Regions from separate parts of the Homo sapiens genome. Here regions 1, 2, 3 and 4 are each linked to region 5. Evidence: fine-mapped QTL for protein levels in blood plasma. A gene starts in region 5. Each other region holds a variant in brackets. All regions are shown on one strand. Distances are from middle to middle.

Region 1 (6,700 bases), 26 kb after region 5:
CAAATGCTGACTTATATGGTAAACCTAACACTAAATAATACTTCTTCAGAGTAAAATGACTTCAGGATTCTCAGCTTCTCCTCTTTCCATGCATTCTAACAATATGTAATAATGACCCACTACAGACCAGTCCTTGATTTTGTCCCTGGAATATGAAGTGAAGTAAGAAATGGCGTCTGTTCTTAGCATACCATGGTGCATCACTCAAGTTACTCTTCAAGTTACCACTTTATGTGTTTTCCAAAAACTAAAGACTTTTCTAAATGAAAGAAAGCACTCGAAAACCTATAATTATGATTTCCAAGAATTTTTGACTACAGTTTAAGACATATCCTTCATTTTGAAAGAAAAATAAATAACTGGATTTTTACTGTTATTAAGGTGTGCTTTCTTTGTCGGGATTCCCATAATGAATGTGTTTGTTTATACTGTGTCTATACTATTTAGCGTTTTTGTATGTGTATGTGTTTTTTTTTTTTTTTTTTTTTTGAGACGAAGTTTCGCTCTTGTTGCCCAGGCTGGAGTGCAATGGCACGATCTCGGCTCACTGCAACCTCTGCCTCCCGGGTTCAAGCGATTCTCCTGCCTCAGCCTCCAGCTTCCCGAGTAGCTGGGATTACAGGTGCCCTCCACCATGCCCTGCTAAGTTTTGTATTTTTAGTAGAGATGGGGTTTCACCCATAGTATTTTAGGAAATAGATCTTGGTTTACATTTCAAAGCCCCTAGTTTGAACTTTCTGTGTATGCAAATTAGCAGTACAGGAGGCACCTAAGGACTAATATTTAGATAGTAAAAACTGAATCTCAAACAAGCGTTTGTATTAATGTAATATGAACTGAAATAATATAACTTGTTGGCAATCAAACTCTTTGGAACATCTATAATTAATCGAAATTGTCATACCATAATAAAAAGAGTCTGACAAATTCAAGGCTACTGAACAAACTGGTAGCCTAATGTAGCTTGAATTTATTTCTATATTCCTTTGAAATTTCAATCAGCCTTTAGTTTTGGATGAAAAGAAAATTTCTGACTAAATTAAAAAAATTATTTTGGTAAATAAAATATTTATTTTGTATTTCAAAAATTTATTTTGGTATTTGAAGCGTAAATGGGTCATCTGAATCCTTGTCTTGCTATTAATTAAACTGCAATATAATGTCAGACAGAAAGCTGGACTTATCTGTCCCCCAATTTAATAGTGCTTTTGTAGCTTACTCAACAAATTCTTCTCTTTACCTTATACCATGGTGTCATAAAGACAATCCTTGGTTTTGCTTATAAAGTAATTTCCCCACTCTAACAGAAACTTTGGATAAACAAATGAAAGTGCTTTGAAATTTTTAGAAGTACAACATAGAAAGCAATTTCAAGTAAATTTTTCTTTGTCTATATTTGCAGACCCACAGTGCAGCATAAACCAGATTTCAAATATTAAAAGACATAAAAGAATAAGCTGCCTTAAATTATTGAACTTTGACCTCAAGGAAAAAATGATGAGCACATTTAGTCTGCTGAGACAGGAGAGGAAAGCAAAAGAGAAAGAGAGGAAAGGGGAGAAAAAAGGAAATCCCTGTATCTGCCAGTATTTTAGGCATTTTCTAGATCTTGGGGAAAAATCAACTATACTATTTGCATTTACACAGAACTTTTTCCTCAAGCACTGCCACAAACATTTCTTTTAACCAACAATAACCTGGAAAGTAGATTAGTCTAATATTACTTTCCATAAATAAGGAAACAATAATTATGAAGACAAGTGGTTTCCTCAGAGAGCTATTTAGTAGCTAAGATAACAAAATAGTCCAGATTTCTTGATTTTTAGACTCCCCAGGCAATTCTGCCTCATGCGAATACAAGTGACGATCTTAATAGATGAGAGAGAATAGCGAGAACAGAGAGAAAAAGTGATAGTGAATTTTTAGTACCTAAGTCACCGATCAAGAAGAATGATATGGATAATAACAGCCATTTGTAATAGATATTTTATAATTACTTATAAATATTGGTTTGTTTTATATTCCCTGACTTTTGAATTTAAGCCACATGAGGCATCTGGAACTGTAAAGTTTTCTTATTCCACTCTTTGACTGATTTGACATTAAAAAAATCTTTTATTCTAAATTGAGAATGGATATCTTTGAGAATAATGAAATGCAGTAACTGGGTCAGAATTTGCTGTTTGTTTGTCCTTGGCCATAGGGGAGCTAAGTAAGTAGGAGAGCTTCAACAGTCCTTTCTTGGTAGGTGAACCTGAGTGTGCTGGTAGGACCTTAAACCTCGAATCATTTCGTCTTCTGCTCTTTGGGTCATTACAAGGCTTATTTTTTGATAATGTTAAAAAATGGTTAATTGGATGATGGTTGAAAGAATCAGAAAGGAACCCTGTTCAGTGTTCATTATCCTATGTTGAATGGATTTTTGGCAGAAAATGTAAATGAGTCATAGCAGTCATGCTTGTAGAAGTAAGCCTTGAGTCCTACCAGCTGAGCTGTCAGAATACTGGAAGGAAATCTCCATTGAGGACTGGTTTTCTCTGCCAAACAGTAACATGAAGTTCAGAACACAGTCAGCTTCAATGTTATAATGTATAGAAGTTTGTCTGTATGAATATTCATATGAAGGCACTTTTTTCTGCTCTGGTAATGTTTTCTTCTTTTATTTCTTTGAAATAAGAATTAGGAGGTCTTACTGCAAACTGGATTTTGAAAAT[T/C]ATGTATGTATTATGTGTGTGGTCTGTATATTTCAACTCAAATCTGCCCTTTTTTCAGGTTAAGTTGATTTTTTTTTTTTGGCTTATGGACATGTAAAATTAGATAAGACAGAACTTGGTCCTAACCTTAGGACAACTGTGCTGTTCTCAGCAATTATATTAATAGAGATATTTTTATATGTACTATTTGTTGTGACATGCTCAGAGAGACCTTTAAAAACAGTATTTTATTCTTTCTTATAACACCCATATGAGATAAGCAGAAGAGGAATTAGAATAAAGTATAAGAATTATAGCTAAACTGTGATAATTTTTACAGGCAGAGGTTAGGTGCTATGTATTTTCTGAATGTATACAACTATTATCTGTGGCAGATGCTTTATAACTAGAATTGTGAGTTATTAAGAAATTATTCTAAAAGATCAGTGTAGGTGCAAATATTCAGGCATTGAAGAAATGTGATGAGGATAAGAAATACAGTGCTGTGGTTAATACCTAGATTTGGTTTGTTTGTTTGTAGGACCTTTTCTCAATGAGGAACAGCGTCTAGAACACTGTGCAGTTAGGGACCTTGCCCATGATTCCACAGCTGCTAAGTAGTAGGATCAGGATTTGAGCTGAATATAAAGATGTTGTGGAGGAACAAGTGTAATATCCTGCCACCTGGAAGGCCTCCTTAAACTTATTGTAGGCAGTAATCACATCTTGAGTGGTTAGATGCCAGGACAACATGTTAGGACTGTAATGGACATATGACTCTTGTCCTCATGGAGCTTACGGTTTTCTGCATAGTTATTTCATAACAGGTGTTACTGTAACATCTGACACCAGAATCCATTTTCAACTTAGTTCAAAGAACTTTCCAGTGATTGACATAATTTAGCATGTCTTATGGAGGATATTTTTAATATGAAGTAACCGAAAAACAGCTTCCAGGTTATCCAACTATTTACTTGGTTCTGCTTTATAGTTACTGTCCTCCAATCTTGTCAGTTATTCCAGTCACAGGTTGAAGAGTGTTAGTTGACTGTGTGTATGAAAATTGAACAGAATTGGTCTTGGAGGGTTTATGCATTAAGTGAGAATTAGAGGATCAGTTAGTTAAATATGCCCAGAGGTTTATAAAATTTACATGCCATATGTGCATCCAGAGAGTGCTCCTGGATGTATAGTTTGTTTGTGAAATGCCAAAGCAAACATTTCATTACCATAGGTGCTTAGCAACTAATCATGTTGAGGTTTGTTCCCAAATTACGGTGTTGTAATTAGACTAGGGCTATTGAAAATCAAAGGCAGTCTGTCAAAAGTTCTTTTGTGTGTGTTTAATATTTTTCTTCTTTGGTAAATTTCCAGTAATTAACATTTCAACTCATTTTTTTCTATTTGATTCACTCTGTGACATTGTTAGGAAAATTAATTAAGGTAGAGAAATGTAAAAATGGTGGCCACTGAACTAGTTTTCTATATGAATTATGTGAAGGAATTTTATGGATGTTTATTCAGACCATGACAGACTAAATATGAATTTTGGTGATCCATTTTTAAGTAGGGCTTTCATATTTTTCAAGAGATCCCTCTGTCAATATTGTTTGGGTCTTCTTCAAAATCTTGATAATAGAAAGGGTTTATAAGATACTTATATAGGCATGTATGTATATGTACACACATATATATCATATTTATCTTTAGGAAGGTATACTTTCAAGATTACATTGTAAATGACAGCATCTGAAAGTGTCAAAGAGCAAAGAAAAAAATTAAAAATAGAAATGTATCTTTACCAAATATGGAAATTCTTGTATATATGTGATATTATCATTCTTTAATACGTGTTTTATATTGAGGATGATGATAAAGTAAGTAGTAGTAGGGAAAATGAGAATGTTTAGAATATGTATTTAATAACTGCTTTAGTATTAAATATGATAATTATAAATGTGGTTTATAATAATAGGCTTAAATTTTACATACCGAGTGGCATACATGAACATATATACTTAATCACAGCTATTTTTACTAAGAAAAATAATGTAGAAACATGCATGCTTTCAAATGTTTCTACTTTAAGAATTAATATTCTTTGATAAGCAATTGTCATTGCTAGAAGATGGCTAGGGGGCTGTTAGTGGCTATAAGGCAATAATGAGATTGTTTGTGTTTAATTCTTATTGAGGAAATATTTTATTGACTTCCAAGACATTGTTGTCATGTAGAAAGAGATTATTGTCCTGTAGAGAGATACATAGTATTTTTGTTTCATAAATGAAGTAAAGGAGGTAAATAAACCTGAGTAAATGGCAGAACCAAGACCCACCAGTCTTAGCTATTACAACATTGTAATTGCTATGTTGCATTTTTTTCCAAAGCAGAGACAAAAAACACTGAATTATTGAACCCTGTGATAAACAATGCAGTTAGCAGGAAGTTAGGAGTATGATACAACTTATCAAGAAGAAATAATCACAACAGGCAGATCTTCTGTTAATCTTTACTTTTGAGTAAGACTATAGTAAGGTATTTCTTTATAAATATTTGCATCATACTTATGTAACCATCCTGTAGACAATTAATAAATAAAATGAAAGTTTTCTACTTAGTGGTTTGCCTAAGGATGTTATGATAGTTCTAACATCATTGTCTTGCTCTATTAGGGATTAACAGGACCTGATGGATCCCCTGGCTCCATTGGGTCAAAGGGACAAAAAGTAAGTTAGCCATCTGGCATTAATTGCTAGTACGAAAATGCTGAAGTATAATTTTATTGCAGTGTTTGCAAGCCAACTAACATTAAGTTATGAAGTATCTAAAATGCACTCGTTCAACTAAAATTGTGTTTAAAAACACCATGATGTGGAATACTATGCAGCCATAAAAAGGAACAAGATCATGTCCTTTGCAGGGACGTGGATGGAGCTGGAAGCCATTATTTTCAGCAAACTAACGCAGGAACAGAAAACCAAATACTGCATGTTCTCACTTATAAGTGGGAGCTGAATAAAAAGAACACATGGACACATGAAGGGGAACAACACACACAGGGGCCTGTCAGAAAATAGGGGGTGGGAGGAGGGAGAGCATCAGGAAGAATAGCTAGTGGATGCCAGGCTTAATAGCTGGGTGATGGGATGATCTGTGCAGCAAACTACCATGGAACATGTTTACCTATGTAACAAACCTGCACATCCTGCACATGTACCCCTGAACTTAAAATAAAAGTTGGAAATTTAAAAAAAAAAAACACCATAATGGGGTGTTTTAATGCTTTCAATATTTATGCAGTTTTCACATTTACATATTCATGATATGAAAGGTCAGTACAATGAAACTATTTTTATTTTTAGGGAGAACCTGGTGTGCCTGGATCGCGTGGATTTCCAGTAAGTAAATGTAAAGCTACAGAATTGAAAATTTCCTATCTTTAGGTAAAATTCTGCCATTGTGAAATCTTTTTATTTATTTATTTATTTATTTATTTATTTATTATTATACTTTAAGTTTTAGGGTACATGTGCAGTTTTCTGCATAATATACATGAGAAATAAGTTGATGACATCTGGTATGGTAAGCATTTCTACTATGAGTGGAAAAATTTTAGAGAAGTTTGAATGTACAGTAGAAAATATATATTCTATTTGCAGGTGGTATTTCCCAGCAGACAATTCCCTCTTTACCTGCCATGATAGAAAACACTTCTTGCATAACAACAGCATATCTAAGTATTCAATGTTTAGACCATGGTGTCACACCACATTCTTCACAACTGGTTTTATCTCTAATGAAATATCGACTAATCAGATATTATCACTTGCCTGATTCCTTGGCTAGTCTTTTTCTGCATTTGCACAATATGGCAGGTGTGTGTTATTTGTATATATGAGGACCAGGTTCTTAGGCTGCTTTTCCTATCTATTTTGCTCTTTGTTCCACTTTTACTCTTGTCATTAATCTGTATTTTTTCTTCTTTTTTCCTATTTGTGCTATTTTCT
Region 2 (6,700 bases), 500 kb before region 5:
ACTATAGGCCAGAAGAGAGTGGGGGTCAATATACAACATTCTTAAAGAAAAGAATTTTCAACCCAGAATTTCATATCCAGCCAAACTAAGCTTCATAAGTGAAGGAGAAATAAAATACTTTACAGACAAGCAAATGCTGAGAGATTTTGTCACCACCAGGCCTGCCTTACAAGAGCTCCTGAAGGAAGCACTAAACATGGAAAGGAACAACTGGTACCAGCCAATGCAAAAACAGGCCAAATTGGAAAGACCATCGATGCTATGAAGAAACTGCATCAATTAAAGGTCAAAATAACCAGCGAACATCATAATGACAGGATCTCATTCACACATAACAATATTAAACTTAAACGTAAATGGGCTAAATGCCCCAATTAAAAGACACAGACTGGCAAACTGGATAGAGTCAAAACCCATCACCATCAGCGTGCTGTATTCAGGAGACCCATCTCACCTGCAGAGACACACATAGGCTCAAAATAAAGGGATGGAGGAAGACCTACCAGGCAAATGGAAAGTTAAAAAAAAAAAAAAACAGGGGTTGCAATCCTAGTCTCTGATAAAACAGACTTCAAACGAACAAAGATCAAAAGAGACAAAGAAAGCCATTACATAACGGTAAAGGGATCAATTCAATAAGAGCTAACTATCCTAAATATATATGCACCCAATACAGGAGCACCCAGATTCATAAAGCAAGTCCTTAGAGACCTACAAAGAGACTTAGGCTCTCACAAAACAATAATGGGAGACTTTAACACCCCACTGTCAATGTCAGACAGATCAACGAGACAGAAGGTTAACAAAGATATCCAGGACTTGAACTCATCTCTGCACCAAGTGGACCTAATAAGACATCTACAGAACTCTCCACCCCAAATCAACAGAATATACATTCTTCTCAGCACATCACACTTATTCTAAAATTGACACATAATTGGAAGTAAAACACTCCTCAGCAAACGTAAAAGAACAGAAATCACAACAAACTGTCTCTCAGGACACAGTACAATCAAATTAGGACTCAGGATTAAGAAACTCATTCAAAACTGCACATCTACATGGAAACTGAACAACCTGCTCCTGAATGACTACTGAGTAAAGAAATGAAGGCAGAAATAACGATGTTCTTTGAAACCAATGAGAACAAAGATAGAACGTACCAGAATATCTGGGACACATTTAAAGCAGTGTGTAGAGGGAAATTTATAGCACTAAATGCCCACAAGAGAAAGTAGGAAAGGTCTAAAATTGACACCCTAACATCACAATTAAAAGAACCACAGAAGCAAGAGCAAACAAATTCAAAAGCTAGTAGAAGGCAAGAAATAACTAAGATCAGAGCAGAACTGAAGGAAATAGAGACACAAAAAAACCTTCAAAAAAATCAATGAATCCAGGAGTGGTTTTTTGAAAAGATCAACAAAATAGACTGCTAGCAAGACTAATAAAGAAGAAAAGAGAAAAGAATCAAATAGACGCAATAAAAAATGATAAAGGGGTATCACCACTGATCCCACAGAAATACAAACTACCATCAGAGAATACGACAAACACCTCTACGCAAATAAACTAGAAAATCTAGAAAATGATAAATTGCTGGACACATACACCCTCCCAAGACTAAACCAGGAATAAGTTGAATCTCTGAATAGACCAATAACAGACTCTGAAATTGAGGCAATAATAGCCTACCAACCAAAAAAAGTCCAGGACCAGACAGACTCACAGCCAAATTCTAACAGAGGTACAACGAGGAGCTAGTACCATTCCTTCTGAAACTATTCCAATCAATAGAAAAAGAGGGAATCCTCCCTAACTCATTTTATGAGGCCAGAATCATCCTGATACTAAAGCCTGGCAGAGACACAACAAAAAAAGAGAATTTTAGACCAATATCCCTGATGAACATCGATGCGAAAATCCTCAATAAAATACTGGCAAACCGAATCCAGCAGCACATCGAAAAGCTTATCCACCACGATCAAGTGGGCTTCATCCCTGGGATGCAAGGCTGGTTCAACATACGCAAATCGATAAACGTGATCCATCACATAAACAGAACCAAAGACAAAAACCACATGATTATCTCAATAGATGCAGAAAAGGCCTTCAACAAAATTCAACAGCCCTTCATGCTAAAAACTCTCAATAAACTAGATATTGATGAAACATATCTCAAAATAATAAGAGCTATTTATGACAAACCCACAGCCAATATCATACTGAATGGGCAAAAACTGGAAGCATTTCCTTTGAAAACCGGAACAAGACAAGGATGCCCTCTCTCACCACTCCTATTCAACAGTGTTGGAAGTTCTGGCCAGAGCAATCAGGCAACAGAAAAAAATAAAGGGTACTCAATTAGGAAAAGAGGAAGTCAAATTCTCCCTGTTTGCAGATGACATGATTATATATCCAGAAAACCCCATCGTCTCAGCCTAAAATCTCCTTAAGCTGATAAGCAACTTCAGCAAAGTTTCAGGATACAAAATCAATGTGTAAAAATCACAAGCATTCCAATACAACAATGACAGAGAGCCAAATCATGAGTGAATTCCCATTCACAACTGCTACAAAGAGAATAAAATACCTAGGAATCCAACTTACAAGGGATGTAAAGGACCTCGTCAAGGAGAACTACAAACCACTGCTCAATGAAATAAAAGAGGACACAAACAAATGGAAGAACATTCCATGCTCATAGATACGAAGAATTAATATCGTGAAAATGGCCATACTGCCCAAGGTAATTTATAGATTTAATGCCATCTTCATCAAGCTACCAATGACTTTCTTCACAGAATTGGAAAAAACTACTTTAAAGTTCATATGGAACCAAAAAAGAGCCCGCATTGCCAAGTCAATCCTAAGCAAAAAGAACAAAGCTGGAGACATCACGCTACCTGACTTCAAACTATACTACAAGGCTACAGTAACCAAAACAGCATGTTGCTGGTACCAAAACAGAGA[GAT/T]AGACCAATGGAACAGAACAGAAGCCTCAGAAATAACACCACACATCTACAACCATCTGATCTTTGACAAACTTGACAAAAACAAGAAATGGAGAAACGATTCCCTATTTAATAAATGGTGCTGGGAAAACTGGCTAGCCATATGTAGAAAGCTGAAACTGGATCCCCTTCTTACACTTCATATGCAAATTAATTCAAGATGGATTAAATATTTAAATGTAAGACCTAAAACCATAAAAACTCTAGAAGAAAACCTAGGCAATACCATTCAGGACACAGGCATGGGCAAGGACTTCATGATTAAAACACCAAAAGCAATGGCAACAAAAGCCAAAAATGACAAACGGAATCTAATTAAACTAAAAAGCTTCTGCATGGCAAAAGAAACTACCATCAGCATGAACAGGCAACCTAAAGAATGGGAGAAAATTTTTGCAATTTACTCATCTGACAAAGGGCTAATATCCAGAATCTACAAAGAACTTAAACAAACTTACAAGAAAAAAAAACCACATCAAAAAGTGGGCAAAGGATATGAACAGACACTTCTCAAAAGAAGACATTTATGCAGCCAACAGATATATGAAAAAATGCTCACCATCACTGGTCATCAGACAAATGCAAATCAAAACCACGATGAGATACCATCTCACGCCAGGTAGAATCGCGATCATTAAAAAAGTCAGGAAGCAACAGATGTTGGAGAGGATGTGGAGAAACAAGAACACTTTTACACTGTTGGTGGTAGTATAAATTAGTTCAACTATTGTGGAAGACAGTGTGGCAATTCCCCAAGGATCTAGAACTAGAAATACCATTTGACCCAGCCATCCCATTACTGAGTATATACCCAAAGGATTATAAATCATGCTACTATAAAGACACATGCACACTTATGTTTATTGTGGCACTATTCACAATAGCAAAGACTTGGAACCAACCCAAATGTCCATCAATGATAGACTGGATTAAGAAAATGTGGCACATATACACCATGGAATACTACACAGTCATAACAAAAGGACGAGTTCATGTCCTTCACAGGGACATGGATGAAGCTGGAAACCATCATTCTCAGCAAACTATCACAAGGACAGAAAGTCAAACACCACATGTTCTCACTCATAGGTGGGAATTGAACAGTAAGATCACTTGGACACAGGGCAGGGAACATCACACACCAGGGCCTGTCAGGGGGTGGGGGGCTGGGGGAGGGACAGCATTAGGAGATATACCTAATGTAAATGACAAGTTGATGGGTGCAGCAAACCAACATGGCACATGTATACCTGTGTAACAAACCGGCACACTGTGCACATATACCCTAGAACTTAAAGTATAATAATAAAAGAATTAAAATGAAAACAGAAACAAAATTAGACACAATGAAGAAATAAGGTATTTGCAAACACTTAACTGAAAAAGGACTAGTATCTCCCATACATTATGTATATGTGTATAGAGAGCTACAAATCAATGAGGAAAAGCAGGCAATCCAACAGAAAAATAGGCAAAAGACCTGAACCAGGCCTATGAAAAGGAAGATTTTTGTTTTTTATTCCCTTCTGTATTTTTTTTTTAAAGGGTGTCTTGCTGTGTTACCCATGCTGGAGTGCAGTGGCTATTCACAGGTATGATCATAGCACACTGCAGCCTCAAACTCCTGGGTTCAAGTGATCCTCCCACCTCAGCCTCCCAAGTAGCTGGGGACTACAGAGGTGCACCATCACACCCCATTTAAAGTTTCACTTTTTAAAAAACACGTGCCTTATTTTCACATGTATTATTTTCATTTTTTAAATGTAAAATAAATGAAGCTATAGTGAAAAAAAGAAGGCAAAAAAGACATGAAAAGGCACTGGGCCTCATTCTGTAATCAAGGAAATGAACAGTAAAAATTTAATGAGACACCATTACATACTCACCATATTGCAAATGCTAAAATCCCTGACAACACTATGTGTTACATAGAATGTGAAATTACTTTGATGGTAAGAGTACCTTTGGTATACACTTTGGAAAAAAGTTTGACATTATCCAGTAAACTTCAAGATGCACATACTTTATGATGCAGAAATTCCACTACTAAGTCACCCTAAAAACATACAAGCTTAGATTCCATATACAAAAGTTTCAAAGCAGCATTATTTAGAATAGTTAAAACCTGTATATAATCCAAATGTTCAACAGCAGAATGGATCTTCTTTCTTATATACAGTACTTCTATTATGTACTTTAAATGGATGTACTTTGCAGTATCCAATTTATGCCTCAATAAAGTTGATTTTTAAAATTTCAACAACTAAAATCAAGGATGCTCCCTTTACTGACAATTCTCTTAGTATGATTCCATACTCTTATGATGAAATGCATTCAAAGCCAAGCCACCATAAATATTTAACCAATCCCTTTACAAAGTACAACATTCTCACTAGCTGTAGTTCGCCTAATCACATCTATCCTGCATATCACTGCTAAAATAATTTTCAAAAAAACCCTTCTGAATTAGGAGTACCATGTGCTTTAGAATTTGAAGTGCTGCTCACAGCCTTTCCTCCCCCCAAAAGAATAAACATCTACAATTTGAGTTCAATCTACCATTCTGGTGTTATTTTTCACTAGTTTCTATACATAGACAAATCCCTTTCTTCAAATTCACTATTTTTCTAAACATTTTATTTACAATTTTCATACATTCTTCAGGCTGTTCTCTTAAACATGTACCCGTTTTCCACCTTAATCCTACCTATGTTTTAAGAGGTAGCTCAAAGGCTAACCTTAAGCAGAGTCTTTTCTGAAGTCCCTTTCATTTATGTTCTCTTCATTCTCTAAAATTCTAAGTCTTCTAAGTCTGATTGTGTATGAAAGCTAAAAACACCATTCTCTATGTCATTCACAGGAGAATACCTGTCTCCAAGGAACTCAGAGGGTTTATACCCACACATATAGATAACTGATTACAAATAATACAGAGACAAGCTAGAAGGACATGCTGAGCACACAGCATTCACTCAACAATTGCTTGTTGAAAATAATGATTATTTACATATTATAAATATCCAGAAAGTCATTAATATATAAGTATACAAATAAAATGGTAATCCTAATAGATTATTTTTAAAAAAAGAATTTTACCTTTTCAGCTGTAAGTGGTTTTGCCGGCTTTTCTGGCTCCTTTTCTCTCTTTTTCTCTTCCTTTTTTTTTTCCTTTTCTTTCTAAAACACAGCCCAAAGTTTTGATAAGTTTACTTTTTTAAAAAATGGCAATTTTTGACTCATCCTTATTAGTTTGAGTAATCATCTGAAAAAGGTAGAAATATTCAGTAATTACAATATCTACGTGCTACTGAAATATAATAAACAGTAAATTCATATTCTCATTGAGGTTATATGCTGATGACACTAAAGAATATCTGTTAAAAAATTAAGACAGAGGCACAGCGGTAAGACAATTTAGAACTTCTTTGATATAGTAGGGTTTGTTTCATGCTTGTTTTAAATGAATGAGATCTCCATTCAATAAATTCTCACTATATCCTTTTATTAGGTTAGACTTCCTAACAGCAATCACGAAGTTGAATTTTGAATGGAAAAAAAAAAAAAACTAAGTGATAGAACAGACTTCTTTATTACACAAAGATAAATTATAATAGGCAAATATAAGGGGAAGACTATAAAATCAGCTTTTTTTATCACAAAATATCTTCAGTCCATTATCATAGATT
Region 3 (6,700 bases), 1.9 Mb before region 5:
TCTGTAATTAGGAGAAGTTTCTGTAATTACACAAGAAACAAAGTAAATAATGTCTTGTCATCCAATGAAAAGGTACTTATTGACCTAAGTAATTTTTCCCAAATGCATGGCCATTAAATCAATAAACTTAACAGATATGCCAAGAATTAGAAGACAAGAAAAGTTACCCTTTTTCAAACCCAATCATCCTCAGCAGTACTTTTATATACATCTTTTCTCCCTATGAAATTATAAAATTTATTAGTTTCTTACTTTCTAATTACTTCTATAAATTAAAAAAGAAACATTCAACAATGTACAACTTAATCCAACAACTATAATTCCATGTATGTAACTATAAACTATCACTTTAGTAACCATAAAACAATATATAAATGTAGAAAGATGATTTCTCCGTTTATGCTTATAATTAATTTCCCTTAGGAAAGCACATGCAAACATTAAGAATAAAATTGGGTATTCAAAGAGAACGATTGAGGAGAAGGCGAAATTTGATTTTAGTTTTAAATCACAGCTAGAGATAGAGGACATTTTAAAAAGGCAGAACACTGCCAAATAATGGAGATGGAAAAGTGTATGGTAAGTGTGAAATACAGGAAATAAATGCTAATCAGTCAGGAAGAACAGAGTTCTAGAGGTGATTGTGTCAAGACACAAGACACTGTGAAGATTGAAGGGCATGGCTGAAGTTTTTTGGATTTCATTCTGTATATAATGATAACCTAATCTACAGGAGTTTCACCACCGCACCGACTGGAATGACAAAGTGTTAGGACAGTTACAATTACTACCTTTGTATGATCCTCAAGACTCTGAGCAATACTTTCCCATTTATTATCTCAAAGTAGACAGGACTTTCAGTTTCTGTTCCAAATATATGCAAAGTCACTCTTCTGTTCCTTAATCCCTCCCTCATTTATGTGCTCCCAAGCACTACAGAGCTATCCCAGGCAGAATTCACACCTGCTAGTCAGTCAGAAAGTGAAGGTTAAGAAGTTCCAAAACATACCTGGATTCATATAACTCTGTATTTTATTCCCCAAACATAAGTTAAATCATTTTGGATACTTTCCCAGTCAAATGTGTCTTCAAATTAATATTCAACTTTTTATTGGAAGCTCATCTTATGATACCAAAAAAAAATTCTCATGGGAGGACTAGCACTTCATAATTTATGAAGGGTCAGGTTTGAGATTTGCCAATAACAATACTCAGGCCCCAACCCATAACACTAAAATCAAAATCTCTGGGCTTGGGACCTGAATACTAGCAGGTTTTTCAAAAATCTCCTCCCTCAAGTGATTGCAACGTGCACTGAACTTATTCAACTACACATTAAAATAAATTTGGGGCACTGCTCCACATTGACTAAACCAGATTAGTTTTTGGTGCTACTCCAGCACATATTTTTAAATGCTCCTCAGATAATTTTAAAAGTACATAAAAATTTTAGGATCACTGATCTAATCCAACCCTCTCCTTCTGTTACCCAAGGTAACCCAGTTCTTGACAGAACTAGGATAACCTGTTCCCTCAACCTGTAACCTCTGGGCTCTTTTCTCTCTACAGGTCTATAAGCTTATTCTTCCTAGAACAGTGTGTATGCTTGTCTTTCCTTCTTCATGCCAGTCTCCCTCACTAGAATGACACATTGGTTCTTTCTGCCCAAAATCTACCCCAGCTCTAATATTAAACGTCGGCATTCAAGCTTCCTTCCTCACTACTGTAAAATATATTATCTATGCATCCTATTTGGTGCCATAGAAATAATATTTATGGGGCCAGGCGCGGTGGCTCATGCCTGTAATCCCAGCACTTTGGGAGGCTGAGGTGGGCGGATCACAGGGTCAGGAGATCGAGACCATCCTGGCTAACACGGTGAAACCCCGCCTCTATTAAAAATACAAAAAATTAGCCAAATGTGGTGGCAGGCACCTGTAATCCCAGCTACTCGGAAGGCTGAAGCAGGAGAATGGCGTGAACCTAGGAGACGGAGCATGCAGTGAGTCGGGATCGCACCACCACACTCCGGCCTGGCGACAGAGGGAGACTCCGTCTCAAAAAATAAAAAATAAAAAAAGAAAGAAAGAATATTTATGGAGTACTTGCTATGTATCAGGTACAAGGCACACAGAGCCATGAATAATCTCATTTAATCTTTACAACTACTCCATGCGGTATGTGCAATTATTATTTCCAGGTTCTAAAACGATTGAACTTGAGACTTAGGGGTTAAGTAACATGTCCTGGGTTATCAGTCTCTGGCTATGCCTAAAACTTATTTATGTCCTCATGATCTGGGATATTAAACCCTCTTCATAAAGCAACTGCTCAATAAGGTTCTTCATGATCATGTTTTTCATAGACAACCATGGAGACAAATGCCAAAATCAGTATTTATCATGTACGTACACAAACATCTACAGGACTTGGTCTCTTTCCTCCTATGAATATTATCATTGAGTTGAATTATGTCCCCCTCCAAACTCATCTGTTGATGTCCTAACCCCTATTACCTCCGACTGTAACTATATTTGGAGACAGAGTCTTTAAAGATGCAATTAAACCAAAATGAGGCCATTAGGGAGGTTCCTAATCCAGTATGACTGGTATCCTTACAAGAAGAGGAAATTTGGACACAACATGCAGAGAGAGAAGATCATGAGAAGATACAGAGAAAAGTCAGTCATCCATAAACCAGGGAGAAAGGCCTGGAACAGATCCTTCCCCAGGTTCCTCCAAAGGAACCAACCCTGCCAACACCCTGATCTCAGACTTCCAGCCTCCAGAACTATGAGAAAATAAATTCCTGTTGTTTAGGACACCCAGTCTGCAGTATCCTGTTATGGTAACCCTTGGAAACTAATACAATTATTATCTCATGTGGTACACAGCAGCCTCAGAAGGGTTTACTGGAATTAAAATTAGATCTGCCCTTTGGGATGAAACATGTGCTTTTAAAAAAGACACAATTGCACAAGTTTAGCTCAGTAGTTAAAACAAGACATACAAAGAAGATGGCTAAATACAATAAACCTAGAATAGCAGTAAGAATCAGAAATGCCCCACGAGGTATGAATAAGTATGATA[C/T]GGAAGGTAGTATCTGGATTTCCAATACAGTAGTTGACATCAGTCAGTATCTAGGGATCCAGCTTCTATCTAACTCCTGGACAGGGACTGGTGACGGCAAGCAAAAGCTTCAGTTCTGAAGACTTGGGCAACAGAATCAGATTTGGTCACAAGATCTAGGGAAATGGATCTAATAACCAAAACAAGGCACAACTCTGGAATGTGGACTCAGGAATATGTTAAAATTTAGATTGTTAGGGTTGAGCCCAGACTGCAGACAGAATAAGTAGAAGGACTGAGTAAATGCTTGTCCTCAGAGGGTACAAGATGAGTTTCAAGCTCTTCCATCTGCATATAATAAAGGGTTTCAAAGGCAAGAAATTCGGCAGATCTCAATACCCATGTTTCCTTCTCTGATCAACAGTGTGTGAAAGGAGAGATTTTTGTTTGCTTCTGAACCCTCTTCCAGGTCTGAGATTTCTGTTATTCTGTTAAATTGAACCAAAATAAGGACAACCTTTTCATTCACTGGATAAAATGGGTCAAAAACACTGCAGTATGATTCTGCATTTTAAAAGGATACCAAAGAACAACTTACTGAGATAAAACAGGTGATACTGAAATCTTCAATATCAAATCTTTTTCTAAATGAACTTTGAAGCGTAAATGTTTCCCCTTAAAATGACCTTTAGTTACACATCTTTTTAAAAGTTCTATATTAAAGTTGTAAGCATATATTACACATAAAATTTGTATGATTATTTTTGAAAATGTAGCCCTGATGTTAATTTAGTTTCTCCTGATTCAAGAATAGAAATTTCTTTCAAATGCAACTAAATGACTAATATTTCTAGCCATGGACTAATTTGGAAGAAATATTATTGGGTATAATCATGTTAGATTTACCAACTTAATTTCTTTCCTTTTTATAGAACTTATGTTTCGTCATAACTCCTGTTTTAGAATCAAGGAGACTTTTTTTGGTCGTTTATATATTAGGCAGAAATTGAAACTGAAAATCCAGCCTCTCACCATGATTTCCAAATTTTTCTTAATGCATATTCTTAGAAATAAGAAATTGGCATGTTAGCTCAGACCACACACACACACACACACACACACACACACACACACACACAATTGTGTCCTTTCAATCTCTTCTCAAGATTTAAATTGCACAGATGATTAAAACGGCTAATGTCCACTCCATATCCACAGTAAGAAGAAATTAGTTCTCAGACTTTCTCTAAGGCATTAAACTGAAGCATCTAATGCCCCAAGTCATATGTCTCCTTTTCGGTAGTTAAGAGGGAGAATTGTTTATCCTTCCCTCATCAATGGCAGACAGTAGTCTCTCTTCTGTTTTATGCCTATTCTCATCTCTATCCTTCATAAGACCAGAAAAAGTCAGGCCAGGTAAAACTGTTGAGCATTAGTGCTAAATGTCAACCTGTCCAATTGTCCAAATGTTTCCCTATGGCAATTTCTTTCCTCTTTTGGAGTAATTAAAGAAGAAACTACAGAAAGCCTTTCATTGAAGGTTAAGAAGTGGAGGTAGAGGTCTCTGAAAGTGTGTTCCTCACCTTGTGTGGGAAAGGGCCCAGGGCAGATGTAGATAAAAGGGAAAAGCACAAAAGAAATCAGGTGGACTCTTTTGAGAGGGCCACTGAGGTCAGGGACTATGCTCTAAGCAATATACTCCCCAAACCTGGTAAGTGCCTGTCATATAGTGGAAGCTCAATGAAAAATTAATATATGAAGAGAAAGGAAAGAGAAACTAGTATAAAAAGAGAACTCAAGGCTTTTACAGTTCCATGTGAACCCACTGCTCTTTGATGTTCTGATTGCTAAAATACCAATTATGGAAGGCCCCAGAAGACACCAAAATTGGTTACTTGCAATTTAATAAAAGAAATATTAGATAGAATTTTTTATTTTCTTATTTTAAAGGATATCAAATTAATGCATGCATATGATAAAAATTAAAATAAATAAGAGCTTCCCATGCATAACTATAGTAATTGATTTCTCCTCATATCCCTTCTTCCCACAGTATCAATTCTACTTCCCAACCTTATTTTTAGATATTTTCTTAGTCGTTCTAATGGAAAACATCCTAATTTTAAAATAATTTGTCTCTATATGTTGACTGCTTTATTTGTAATATTATCTACTGGTTTCTAATTTTAAAATATTACCTATTGTTAAAACTGATTAAAGACAAGATGCTCACTTTATTTACATCATTTTGGTTTCAGAAGCCAATAGTTTTATCTTTCTACAATTCTATATTTAAACATACTTAATCCTCTATTTCTTGTCCTAAAATCTGAACACAATCTTTTAACTCTTCAATATTTTACATAAGACTATTCATATTCCTGCCTATCCCTCCACCTCTGCCCTCTCCAGAGCATTTCAACTCCCATATCTGTCAGTTTTACCTTTATTTTCATGCAGACACAGTATTCATATTCAATTGTGTTGACATTTTTAAGTATTAAATGAAAAAAAGGGTTTATTCTAAAAATTGAAAACCAATAAGCAACTTTTACAATATCATTACATCTAAATACCCTAGAACCAAGAAAATGGCAATAATGTGCAAGGGTTAAATTTCCTTTTCTATAGATGCACTGTCAGGCACTCAGAGAAAAATGTAGTTAAGTTTATGGCCCAATTGGCTGTATCAGTTACTTAAATTACATCATATTTTTTCTTGCTTCACATTTGGACAAGGATTTTTTTAAGTTTATTTTTTATCAATTTTTAATTGCCCCTTTTTATTGTTGAAAGAAGACACAGCCTTTCTTTAACAAGTCTATGATGTCATGTAACTCATTCATTAGTCATTGGATATTTCTTGGAATCCATGACCTTCTTCTTAATACAGACTTTCTTATTGGAGCCTCCTGGAAATGACCTCCAGTTTTAATCTGAACAAACTTCTTTTTGCACATGTCATTCAGGGACTTCCTTGCATTGAATTTCTGGGTTAGTTCTACTATTTCTTGTTTATTATTTGTCTTGACTACATGATTATTATTCAGTTTTCTTGGGTGCATATATCCTTAAATAACATTCTCAGAACGAGAATAAAATGCAGGTTTTCTGAGAACTTTGAAGTTGATAGTTTAGATGAATACAGAATTGCGGTTTCAAAATTACTTTGCTCATAATTGATTCTGTATATTTTTATTAACACATAATATTTATACATAATTATGAGGTACATGTACTATTTTGTTACACCCATAGCATATGTAATGACCAAGTCAGGGTATTTAAGATATCCATTATCTCACGTATTTATTGTTTCTATATGTTGGGAACATTTTAAGTCCTCTCTTCTAGCTATTCTGAAATATGAAATATATTGTTGTTAACTATAGTATACTTACTCTACTATCAAACATTAGATCTTATTCCTTCTATCTAACTGTAAGTTTGTACCCATTGAGCAGCCTCTCTTTTCCATCCCTCTCCCCTCAACACACCCTTCCCCATGTCTGGTAATTATCACTCTACTGTCTACCTCCATGAAATCAATTCTATTAGCTCCCACATATGAGTGAGAGTATATGATGTTTGCTTTCTTTGCCTGACTTATTTCACTTAACCTCCAGTTCCA
Region 4 (5,000 bases), 1.4 Mb after region 5:
CACCAGCTTGCAAGTACAAGCAAGTCTAAATACCAGAATTTGACAACAGTGGAGATACAGGTACTTTCAGCTCCTGGTTCTGAGATTTCCACTGCTAACACTACTATTACTGTAACAAGCAAATTGATTAAATAATCACAAAAACCATTCCTAACGTTTATAGGGCACAAAATTGTTTTCTAGGACTCTTCACTTTTCCTTGAGGGTCTATATCCAAATAATTACCCAATCTTGTCTTTTTGTTTTGTGTTGTTTTATTTTCACTGGACGTTTCAAAAATATTCCTTCCTTCTTTCCATTTTCATATCCATTACATAAGCTATTTATTGCCTTAGTCTAGGATTTTGACTCTAAGCCTCTAAATTTGACCATTTCCTCTTTCAAATCCCTTTGTCAGGTTTTCCCTGGATACGTTTAACATGTCAATTTTATCCTAGTATTTCCCTACTCCAAAGTCTACAGTGGATACCCAGGACCCACAAAGTGTAGTACAATTTCTGAAGGCTAACTGAAATTTTGTATCTTTGATCAATATCTCCCCTTTCTGTATCCAATCCCCTACTCCTGGCTTCTGGTAGCCACCATTGTACTCTACTTCCATGAGTTCAACACTTTAAGAATCTACATACAAGTGAGATCATGCAGCATTTGTCCTTCTGTGCCTCGCCATTTTACTGAGCATGTGATAAATATATACTGTCTATTTCAAAACTACTAAAAGGATTTTAAATGTTTTCACCACAAAGAAACAAGTATGTGTGGTGATAGATTTTCGTCAATTAGTTTGACTTAATCATTCCACAAATGTAAACATATGTTAAAACATCACATTGTACCCCATAAATACATAATATGTTCAATTAATATTATTTAAAATTTTTAATTAAAAAAATTAACCTGGAGAAGGTCGCATTCCATACTCTTTGTAATCAAACTATCTTCTAATCATTTCACCAAATTGTAGGCACTCAAAAACATCTTTCAATTTTCTCCCTCAATAAATATTACTGTTAGTCTTGAAATATCACAAATCCTTCCTTCAGACCATTCAAATTCTCCCAGTTTTATAAGATCCCCAAAAAATGCCCTGACCACTGGGGACCTCTGACCAATCATTTTCTGCACAATTAATTAAGCAATTAAACATGGCAATTTCATACACTTTGCTTATTATAGTTTATTATTGTATTGAACTGTTATTTAAATATTTTATGATTAACTTTTCATATGCTTGTGACTTATCTCTCTACCTATATTACCAACTTCCTAAGATTAGGTACTGGGTTTTATATCAGTGATCTTCAAATTGATGTATGAGTACTTCTAGGAGGTATAGGAAGCCTTTTAAAAAACATTTTCAAGATGCTCAAATTCCACATGTACTGTTGTCTGAAATTATCTCCCAAGAATCTGACCTTTCCAAAAAGGCCAAATTTTTACAAAACACAAAAATGAAGAAAGCCAAACCTCTCACCCATTCAGCATCTTATGTTTTGTGTATTGCGCACAACTCCTCCCCACACCTACCTGTTTTTCTCTATCTCTTTCACTGCCAGATTTTCGTTGTATCTAGGATAAAAGCCCCTACTCTGACCTCAGGCTTCCCATGATGTAGTTTCTGCCCACTGTCTCCAACCTCATCTCAGACCATGTCCTAAACTCTGGGTGATTTCATGTCTCAGGGGTTTTCTGTTAACTTTTTCCTCTGCCTGAAATACTAACTTATGCTTTATTTTTCAACTAATTTTTTCTCACTCCCCGGGTTTCAGCCTAAAGCTCTTACTCTCTGAGAGACATGTTCTCACTCTCAATCCAATTTAGGTCAATCTATTATTTTATCTCCTGACACCCTCCATGATGTCTTTGCAGCGCTTATCACAGTTTCTATTTATTTGTGTAATTATGTAATGTTTGTCTCCCCCAAACCCTGAGCCCATGAGCAAAGGAGCTCTTCACTCTCCTGACACATCCCCGTGC[C/T]TGGCACTGTGCCTTACATGAACGAAGTGCTCATAAAGTACCTACTAAGGAAGTGAAAGAGTATATGTTAAAGCCTATATTGAATCTAAAAGTAAGTCGATTTAAAAAATAAATGAACCTTGGAAATCATGGAAACCAAAGCCATGATCTCATTCGCAAGAGAGAGAAGGAGCTCAGGTGTCACATTTAGTGCCAAACAAAGCACTCTGAATTCTAGTCAAATCATTTTTTAAAATATCTTTTAATTCTGCTTTCTTGTTCACACCATCAAACAAATATCCATTGACAGGACAGCAACCTTGGAAGTACCCTTAAATTATTAAGTTCAAGCCTTATTAATTCCAATTTTAATTAAATTGATGAGATACATATAGTTGTAACTATCTTGCCTCAGTATTTCTGTGTCCAGAATTGGTGGGTTCTTTGTCTCACCGACTTCAAGAATGAAGCCGCAGACCCTGGCGGTGAGTGTTACAGTTCTATAAAGGTGACGTGTCCGGCGTTTGTTCCTTCTCATGTTCAAACATGTTCAGAGTTTCTTCCTTCTGGTGGGTTCGTGGTCTCGCTGGCTTCAGGAGTGAAGGTGCAGACCTTTGCGGTGAGTGTTACAGCTTTTAAGGCAGTGCCTCTGGAGTTGTTCATTCCTCCAGTCCAGAGTTGTTCACTCCTCCCAGTGAGTTCGTGGTCTCGCTGACCTCAAGAGTGAAGCTGCAGACCTTTGTGGTGAGTGTTACAGCTCATAAAGGCAGTACAGACCCAATGAGCGAGAAGCAACAAGATTTATTGCAAAGAGCAAATAAACAAAGCTCCTACAACGTGGAAGGAGACGCAACCTGATTGCCGCAGCTGGTGCTGCAGCCTGCTTTTATTCCCTTATCTGACCCCACCCACATCCTGCTGATTGGCCCATTTTACAGAGAGCTGGTTGGTCCATTTTACAGAGAGCTGATTGGTCCATTTTACAGAGCGCTGATTGGTCCGTTTTGACAGGGTGCTAATTGGTGCATTTACAATCCTCTAGCTAGACAAAAGTTCTCCAAGTCCTCACCAGATTAGACACAGAGCACTGATTGGTGCCTTTACAAACCTTGAGATAGACAGGGTGCTGATTGGTGTATTTACAATCCTTTAGCTAGACCATCCTGGCTAACACAGTGAAACCCTGTCTCTACTAAAAATACAAAAAAATTAGCTGGTAATTGTGGCGGGCACCTGTAGTCCCAGCTACTCCGGAGGCTGAGGCAGGAGAATGGCGTGAACCCAGGAAGCAGAGCTTGCAGTAAGCAGAGATCGCACCACTGCACTCCAGCCTGGGCGACAGACCAAGACTCTGTCTCAAAAAACAAAACAAAACAAAAAAAAAACTAGTAATAGAAGTGGTAGTAAATGGGACTATGTGCTTACCTAGTTGGTCTTCCAGGGAAATAACCATTAAGGGACTCTTTCATATCACATTATTTCAGAAGGGCTTTTTAGGTGTTGTATAAACTGTTTATAATAAAAGTAGGGAAGAGGAGGAAATCTGTACTGCCACAGAGAATACCCTGAAATAATTGGTATCAGTTATGATTGAGGACTTGCATGCCAGGACTTAAGGGAGGAGTCTAGGAGCCACTACAAAAAAGAAAATCATCCCATTCAGTCACCTTCAATTTAGAGAGATAACTATATAGGACATTATCACTGGATAGAATCAGATAATGCAATGTAAAGGAAGCATATAATTCTTTTAAAACCTTTGAGATGATAATTAAAAAAATCAAAACATGATCATTTCATTGTATGCTCAATATGATAAAAGGGAAATCTCTAGCTCTTCAGATAGAGGAACAGTCCTATATTCACATGGAAAATTCCCAACAGGAAATGAGAACTTCAGTATCCTGTGGTTTAAATGTTATACATGAAAGTATAATACTTATTATTTGTATGCAAACTACATACATTACCAATATTGAGTCACTACTTCAAAGTATGTTTTTGAAATACCTTGGGACTCTACAATCTAAATATATTTTTCCTTGTGGTTGTAATAGAGCAATTACTGATAATCTCCATAATTTTCTGTAGAAGTAAGATCCATATTATGTCCCAGGTTTAGAAAAAGCATTAGAGAATATTCATGAAATGAATGGGAATGTAACATTTCTAAATCAAAGTCAAATAACCTTTAAGAGAACATAAAAGCTTGCTAACGGCTCTAGTTTATCAACACCTAGGAGAACAAAATACTGTACAAGGAAGGATTCATAGATTCCACATAAGCAATTAGGAATGGATTATTATAGTCACAGACCTGTGTACATAAAAATCTCGATGTAAGTTGCCTAATGAAATAAAAACTATAATTATGGTAATACTTAAATATGTATCCAATATTTTGTCGACTCTTGTATGGAACAGATGAATATGATCATTGTTTTTACTACTTTAAACTGAAGCACACACATAAATGAAACAAAGGGTGTTTTATTCATTTATTTCAAAAAGCTGATTAAAAGCTAGCCATTGAAAGACAGAGCTACCTTCCAAAACACTAAAGTGTTCCACAGTGAACTGTAATTTCTGAGAGGCTATGATTTCTGGTGTCAGAGACTAAATTCCCATAGCCACTTGTTCCCGACTGACTCTCTTTGGCTTGAATGGTTGGCTTTTATTAGGATTTTTGTCATGACTTATCCCCAAATATCCACACTTACTAAATGCAAAACTACAAGAAGAGAAAGAATGTGTCTTAGTCATCCGTGTACTCGTGAGTACACTGCCTTGCATGCCAATGTATATTCAGGGAATATATACTGAATTGAATATAGTTCAGCTACTCAATATCTACAAACTGGGCATCTACTACATGCCAGCATTGTACTAAATGTGGAAAAAAGGCATATATTGAAGGTGGAAAATCAGATACAAGACTTAATAAATAGGTTGGCATTTGAGAGAGATCACTCTGCAACACACGGAAAATATGAGAAGGAGGCAAGATTTGTATTTTATCAGTCACATAACTGTGGATTTGATGC
Region 5 (6,700 bases):
CAGAACCAAACTGTTAGGTAAGGTGAGGAAATAATGCTAAGGGTGAAAAAGCTTATGCGTCTATGACCTTAGGGTGCAACTGACCCAGACCAGAATAGTGTGGCATTTGCACTGCTGTCTGTGAGATTCTAATGTCGCGTTAGGAAACAAGATTAATAGAAAATGGGAGTGGAGGGAGGAAAAAAAATTTCCTTAAATAATATTGTATATATCTTTGTTCTCTCTGGATCGACTTTCTTTTTTGTTTTTTGTTTTTTCTTTTCTTTTTTTTTTGACATAGGGCCTCACTGTCTTGCCTAGGCTGGAGTGCAGTAGTGCAATCACTGCTCACTACAGCCTCAAGCTCCTTAGGCCCAAGAGATCCTCCTGCCTCAGCCTCCTGAGTAGCTGGGACTGGAGGTGTGCATCACTGTGCCCGGCTAATTTTTGTATTTTTTGTAGAGATGGGGTTTCACCATGATGCCCAGGCTTGTCTCCAATTCCTGAGTGCAAGTCATCCGCCTGCCTTTGTCCTCCCAAAGTGCTGGGACTACAGGCATGAGCCACCCTGCCTGGCCTGGATTTACTTTCTTTCTTTTTATTAGTATTATTATTTTTGAGATGGAGTCTCACTCTGTCACCCAGGCTGGAGTGCGGTGGTGTGATCTCGGCTCACTGCAACTTCCGCCTCCTGGGTTCAAACGATTCTCCTGCCTCAGCCTCCCGAGTAGCTGGGACTACAGGCGCGTGCCACCAGGCCTGGCTAATTTTTGTATTTTAGTAGAGATGGGGTTTCACCATGTTGGCCAGGCTGGTCTCGAACTCCTGACCTCAGGTGATCTACCCACCTTGGCCTCCCAAAGTGCTGGGATTACAGGCGTGAGCCACTGTGCCCAGCCTACTTTCTTTCTTAAAATAGCTCTTGCTTGCTCCTACCATCTTAAATAAAACTGCCAAGCTAGAAAAAAGCCACACCACCTATAAGCAAACCTATTTTTCTCTCTATCCTTTCATTTTTAATTAAAAGGCACCCTCACTTGATTTCAAATTCTACTTGAAGAGGATTCATTACAGTGGGAAGGAGAGGGGCAAATGCGGAATTGAGATCTCTAAAGCAATGAAAGGATTTCCCAAACACTTCATTATAATGAAAAATCCCTCTCTCCTTTCTTACCAGAGTAAGTAATATGAGAGGATCAATCATGCAAATAAATAGCTTCAATGGACAGTCCCTTTGGAAAATGCCTTTTCCCCTGTGAATCTCTGGCTGGCTTACCTCCTGTGACTTCAGGATGTCAGGAAGGTCCCCAGCTGCAGTTTCTCCTCTGAGGTTAATAGACCGCTTCTTTCTCATGAGCCCTGACTGACTTAAACAAATAAGCTAAGATCTGGTCATTTGTAGTTCTGTCACAGAGCCAGGATGGCTGCACTAGGGAATGGGAATTTTGATAGACAGAAGGCAAATGACAGGGACTTGTAGAAAGCCCCAAACAGCATGAGGAAATGGGTGTCCCTCTGGGAAAGAGAGACAGGACTCCAACAGGTGGGCTATGAGTAGAAAATAAAAGGGCAAAAGCATGGATATTAAGTTTGCCTGATTTACATTTCATCAGTGAGCTGGGGGAGGCAGAAACTGAAAGGACTTTTTTGGAAAAGAAATAAACAAATGAAAAATAAGAAGCAACGCTATTGTTTTGTAATTAAATAAAAATTAAATCAATTAGAAAACGAAATTTAAAAATTTCAAGAAGCCAGGTGCAGTGGTGCATGACTATCATCCCAGTTACTCAGGAGGCTGAGGTGGGAGAATCCCCTGAGCCCAGAAGTTCAAGGCTGTAGTGAGCTATGATTATGCCACTGTACTCCAGCTTGGGGGACAGAGCGAGACCTGAGACCCTGTCTCTTAAAAAAAAAAAGTTCACCTAAAAATTACTTTGCTTGTACTGTGATTTTTGAGATCATTGGATCTTCTGACCTTTAGAGTCTTGGTTTTTGGAGTAACCACCCGTGTCCCTCAAGACAAGGCCAGAGGTTGGCCATGCTGAGTGGGTGGTAACGGGGGTGATGTGGGGGCTATAGGGAATTCTCTTTAGGTGCTCAGGTTCTGGAGAGACGGCATGGCATGTGTGGTAGCGATGCTGATAACATGCCTCTCTCTAGGTTTGTGCTCCTTGTAATTTGCTCTCACCTTGTTAACGGAGGATAATATGTTGCTTCTTTCCAGATACAGTGTCCTCTGCTCAACTCTGGTAGTCTCAGAGTTTAAGAATAAACAACAAGTAGGGGGCTTGATGTTACATTTTATCAGGATTTCTATCCATGAGGTAGAGAGAGGGAATGTGTATTTAGTAATAGGCATGGCACTTTGAAAAAGTTACTTCATTTTCTGCTTCCTCAACTTTCTTATTTGGAGAATAAGGGTAACTTCAGTCTTACCTTATAATGTTGTTGTGAGAATTAAATGGCATTAAGCTTTGAGCATTTTCAACAGACGGAGGTGCATAATGAAGCGTTAGCTATGAAGACGATGACAAATAATGATTGTTGGGTGTTAGACCCTCTGCCTTTGATACCTCATTTAATTCTCAAAACCATTGTTTTAATGTAAGCATTTTCAATCTGTTTTACAGTTAGGGCATCTAGTTACAGAAAGGTGAAGTAACTCTCTCAAGGACACACAGCTAGTAAGCTTCAGAATAAACAGGGATTGAAACTTAGGTTGATCGGGCACCAAGGCTCCCACGAGTTTCCACACCTCTGCCTCCCAGTGGGCACATTTTTACTGGAACCTCAGCCCTCTGAAAGCTTCCACTGTATTCCTATAGCAGTTCTGAAAGCTGCCATTGTACTCCTATAGCAGATCTAAAAGCATCTACTGTGTTCCTATAGCACCTTGCCTGGATCTTTCTGGTGAATTTCCCCACATCCTGATTTTATTTTTTTCTTTTCAGCAAACTTTCCCCTGTAAATCCCTCCTTCAGTATAACCTTGTTAGCTTTGAGGACACACCCCTAGGCCTGGGCTCAGAGCGCTGCTTCTCCCCACCCCTTTCCTTTGCTTCAGTTTAAAGTGTCACGAGATGCCTCTGGTTCTCTCCCTTTGCTTTTAGCCCTCACCGGGGGCAGGAGGGACCAAGGCTGGGCCCAGAACACATAGTCCTAGGGTAACAGTGAAGGGGTCGTGAGGGGACAGTGACTCCCTTCCAACCCCTTCTTCATAGGGACTGTTGGCAAACAAAGAAAATCAACTGGGAAAATGAAGACCTGCTGGTAAGACAATAACCCTGGAAAGAGTGGTGGGGAGATGGAGCTGGGGGTCCTCAGAACCAAGGGTCTGTATTTTTGCAGCAGTGGTAAGATGAGAGTAGGTGAGCCTCAAGGTGAGAGACAGAAAGAGAGACGGATGAGAGAGTAAGACAAGAGGGCAAGCGTGAGAAACCGAAGACAGACACAAAAAACCGAAGACAGACAGAGGAAGGGAGAGAAAGTGACGGCCACAGAAAAAGAGAGGAAGGAAATCAAAGGTGAAAGAAACCAGAGACAAAGAAATAGGTACCAAAACAGTGAGATAGGTAGATACCGAGAAGGTGAGATCAATAAAACAACAACGACAGTGGGGTCTGGAAACATGAGTTCCTTACATCTCTCAGTAGGGTTTCAAAGTAAAAATGAAGGCTGGGTGCGGTGGCTTATGCTTGTAATCCCAGCACTTTGGGAGGCCGAGGCGGGCGAATCACGAGGTCAGGAGTTCAAGACCAGACTGACCACCATGGTGAAACCCTGTCTCCACTAAAAATAGAAAAAGTAACTGGGTGTGGTGGCACGTGCCTGTAATCCCAGTTACTCAGGAGGCTGAGGCAGGAGAATCGTTTGAACCCAGGAGGTGGAGGTTGCAAAGAGCCGAGATCGCGCCATTGCACTCCAGCCTGGGTGACAGAGCGAGACTCCGTCTCAAAAAAAAAAAAAAAAAAAAAAAGAAATGAAAAAAAAACTATACTGTGATTTGATCACCTTACATTAATTAGGTTTACTAGGTTTGAAAATATGGAAGTGTTTTCCATCTGCGGGGACTCCTGTTTCAGTCATTTTTCTTCTCTCTTCTTCAGGAAAATTCCAGTTTTCTTCTTTGTGTGCAGTTTCCTGGAACCCTGGGCATCTGCAGCTGTCAAGCGTCGCCCCAGTAAGGGCCATAGTTTCTAGACTTTCAAAGATCACTTATTCCCAGAAATGATCAGGCAGGGCTGTGGCTGACTGAAGACTGAGTGAGGCATTCATAGTCCTTCACACCCTCACTCTTCAATCCAGCTTTGGGGCACAGGGATACATTAGGTTCTGGTTTTCCATGGTCAATGCTGGGTATGGAAAGTAAGTCCTGTCAGTAATCACAGTTGGTAGGAAGGCCAATCTGTGAGCTGCAGTGCCTAGTGCAGTGCCTAGTACAGATGGTGATTGGTAAATGTTGGGTGAATACATGGATGAATGAATAAATAGACTGATGGATGGATGGACCTCAACAATTTGGGGTGAGGAGAGTATAAAGAGCATGTTTGATGTACCATTATGGTTAGGCCCATGCTTTTTTATATTTATATTTTTATTTTTTTGAGATGAAGTCTCACTCTGTCACCTAGGCTGGAATGCAATGACACAATCTCGGCTCACTGCAACCTCCGCCTCCCAGGTTCAAGTGATTCTTCTGCCTCAGCCTCCGAAGTAGCTGGGACTACAGGCATGTGCCAGCATGCCTGGCTAATTTTTTATATTTTTAGTAGAGACGGGCTTTCACCATGTTGGTCAGGCTGGTCTTGAACACCTGACCTCAGGTGATCTACCTGCCTCAGCCTCCCAAAGTGCTGGGATTACAGGCGTGAGCCACAGCGCCGGGCCTATGCTTTGTAACTGAATAATACTTTTTTTGAAGTCTAGAGAGTCTCTGTTGTCAGATGAATCTTAGCAAGGCACTGAGGTTGGATATTTCCAAGAAGCCTTCTGTGGTGGTGAAAAATCTCTCTTCCCTTTGACCTTCCATTTGTGTAAGGAGAACACAATTCCATTCTATGATTTCTTATCAAATTGAGGATTTAATCCTTCTCATGATTATTTTCTTCTTCTTTTTACTCTTCCCAGTTCTAAGATGTTAGGATTAATCTAGTCGGGACTTTTATTTGATCTCTTAGAACGAATTTATGAAATCAAATCCATCCTCTATATTTTATTTAGGATTAGTGAATCTCAAGACTTCCCCAGGCCCCTATATCTGACAAAGATTCCTAAGAACTCTACTCTCCAGAAGCCCCACTGAACTGGACCAAGGTTGGCTCTGGAATCTCACTGGAATCCTAAAATTTGTGGTGTTTAAGGAACATTTTCTAGCCCAAACCACCAGGAATTTTCCAAACAGATTTCTGACCCTGTGCCATTCAGGACACCATTCAGCTTTGGTTTCAAAAGGAACAAATGCCTAACCTCTTCAAAACGAACATTTTCCCAGCCAGATTATTAGAGCAACTTTGTGCCTTGCATCCACCCCTTCCAGGATGAGTTGCAGGTGGACAGATTATAATCGTAGAGGCATGGAGGTAAAGCCAAACACTTTACCTCTAAGCAAGCTGGTATAATATTGAATTTTAAATATTTATTATTATTGATACATCCTGAAATCTTTTTTTTGTGGTCAATTGCTATTTTCTGGTTCTAAATTTTATTATTATTATTATTATTTTATTTTATTTTATTATTATTATACTTTAAGTTAGAGTGGATGAAGTAGAATGACATGCTATCTCTTTTGCAGGATTCCCTGTCAATTCCAATTCTAATGGTGGAAATGAACTCTGTCCAAAGATCAGGATTGGCCAAGATGACTTACCAGGTGAGTAGCAATGTACCCTATTGAAAATGCATGCTTTCTATAAACCTGATTTTTTTTTTTATTTGGGAAAGTTGTGGAAAGAAATAAAACCAATCTCATTTTAGACTTTTCATTTTGTATTCCCATTCTATAGGGTTTGATCTGATCTCTCAGTTCCAGGTAGATAAAGCAGCATCTAGAAGAGCTATCCAGAGAGTAGTGGGATCAGCTACATTGCAGGTGGCTTACAAGTTGGGAAATAATGTAGACTTCAGGATTCCAACTAGGTAATCTATCAAAAATATTTTAATCTAATTATCTGACTCAAATGCATTAAAAATGGATAGCTATCCAATGTTAGAGTTTTCTTATGATCAATGTTTCTTGGATTATAATTGTATTTAAAGATGAAGAAATTTATTTACCTGCCTATCTTCAGTACCTTAATACTGCATTTCATGTTTTCAGTATGTAATTTACTTTCCATTCCAGGAAAAAGCATCACTGAGACTATTATACATTGATTCAGGACATGTTCTTATTACCTTGCTTTCTGTTTTTCTATAATTTGTCTGGTTTTGACTGAAAGGACCCTCTGTGAAAAGTGCCAGAGGGTAAGCATAAATTTAACTAGGAGCCACAGAGTGGTTAGAAGACTCACAATGGTGCTGTTCAAGTGTCCTGGTGCTGAAATGGAGCCACACGTCCACTGCTTGGCTTCTGGCAGACATCAAACCAAAGCAAAACTAAAATAATTATAATAGAAACAATGATAGTAATACTAACGACATCAAATCCTCCACTTCACTGATTTCTTTCTCTGGAACTAAGCCTTTTGCTCTTTATTTAAAACTGAGGTACTTTAGTGTGT

Direction of the effects. Alleles are on the strand shown, and positions count from the first base shown. The strength of an association depends on the size of the effect and on how common the allele is.
In carriers of allele T in region 1, the plasma level of the protein whose gene starts at base 3,075 in region 5 tends to be lower than with C alone (moderate association).
In carriers of allele GAT in region 2, the plasma level of the protein whose gene starts at base 3,075 in region 5 tends to be lower than with T alone (moderate association).
In carriers of allele C in region 3, the plasma level of the protein whose gene starts at base 3,075 in region 5 tends to be lower than with T alone (weak association).
In carriers of allele C in region 4, the plasma level of the protein whose gene starts at base 3,075 in region 5 tends to be lower than with T alone (weak association).

Evidence for each region. PIP is the posterior inclusion probability: the model's chance that the variant is causal. The UK Biobank Pharma Proteomics Project read protein levels with antibody pairs (Olink). The fine-mapping took linkage between variants from a reference panel, not from the people measured, so its PIPs are less certain.
Region 1: its variant is fine-mapped to the plasma level of the COL9A1 protein (UK Biobank, PIP above 0.99).
Region 2: its variant is fine-mapped to the plasma level of the COL9A1 protein (UK Biobank, PIP above 0.99).
Region 3: its variant is fine-mapped to the plasma level of the COL9A1 protein (UK Biobank, PIP above 0.99).
Region 4: its variant is fine-mapped to the plasma level of the COL9A1 protein (UK Biobank, PIP above 0.99).

What each region holds. Positions count from the first base shown.
Region 1 is chr6:70,273,438-70,280,137 of GRCh38, reverse strand. COL9A1 (collagen type IX alpha 1 chain) reads left to right here. Exons shown (of 38, transcript NM_001851.6): 11 at 5,366-5,419; 12 at 6,056-6,091. Among named protein-coding and RNA genes, the nearest start is that of COL9A1, 26 kb to the left of the region's middle. The variant T/C (reference allele first, on the strand shown) is at 2,715.
Region 2 is chr6:70,798,148-70,804,847 of GRCh38, reverse strand. It overlaps SMAP1 (small ArfGAP 1), which reads right to left. Exons shown (of 11, transcript NM_001044305.3): 6 at 6,111-6,191. Among named protein-coding and RNA genes, the nearest start is that of SMAP1, 130 kb to the right of the region's middle. The variant GAT/T (reference allele first, on the strand shown) is at 2,974.
Region 3 is chr6:72,198,366-72,205,065 of GRCh38, reverse strand. The region is part of intron 6 of RIMS1 (regulating synaptic membrane exocytosis 1); the gene reads right to left. Among named protein-coding and RNA genes, the nearest start is that of RIMS1, 320 kb to the right of the region's middle. The variant C/T (reference allele first, on the strand shown) is at 3,091.
Region 4 is chr6:68,881,226-68,886,225 of GRCh38, reverse strand. The region is part of intron 3 of ADGRB3 (adhesion G protein-coupled receptor B3); the gene reads right to left. Among named protein-coding and RNA genes, the nearest start is that of ADGRB3, 250 kb to the right of the region's middle. The variant C/T (reference allele first, on the strand shown) is at 1,978.
Region 5 is chr6:70,299,459-70,306,158 of GRCh38, reverse strand. COL9A1 (collagen type IX alpha 1 chain) reads left to right here and starts at 3,075. Exons shown (of 38, transcript NM_001851.6): 1 at 3,075-3,248; 2 at 4,085-4,158; 3 at 5,773-5,850; 4 at 5,984-6,116. The coding sequence starts at 3,235.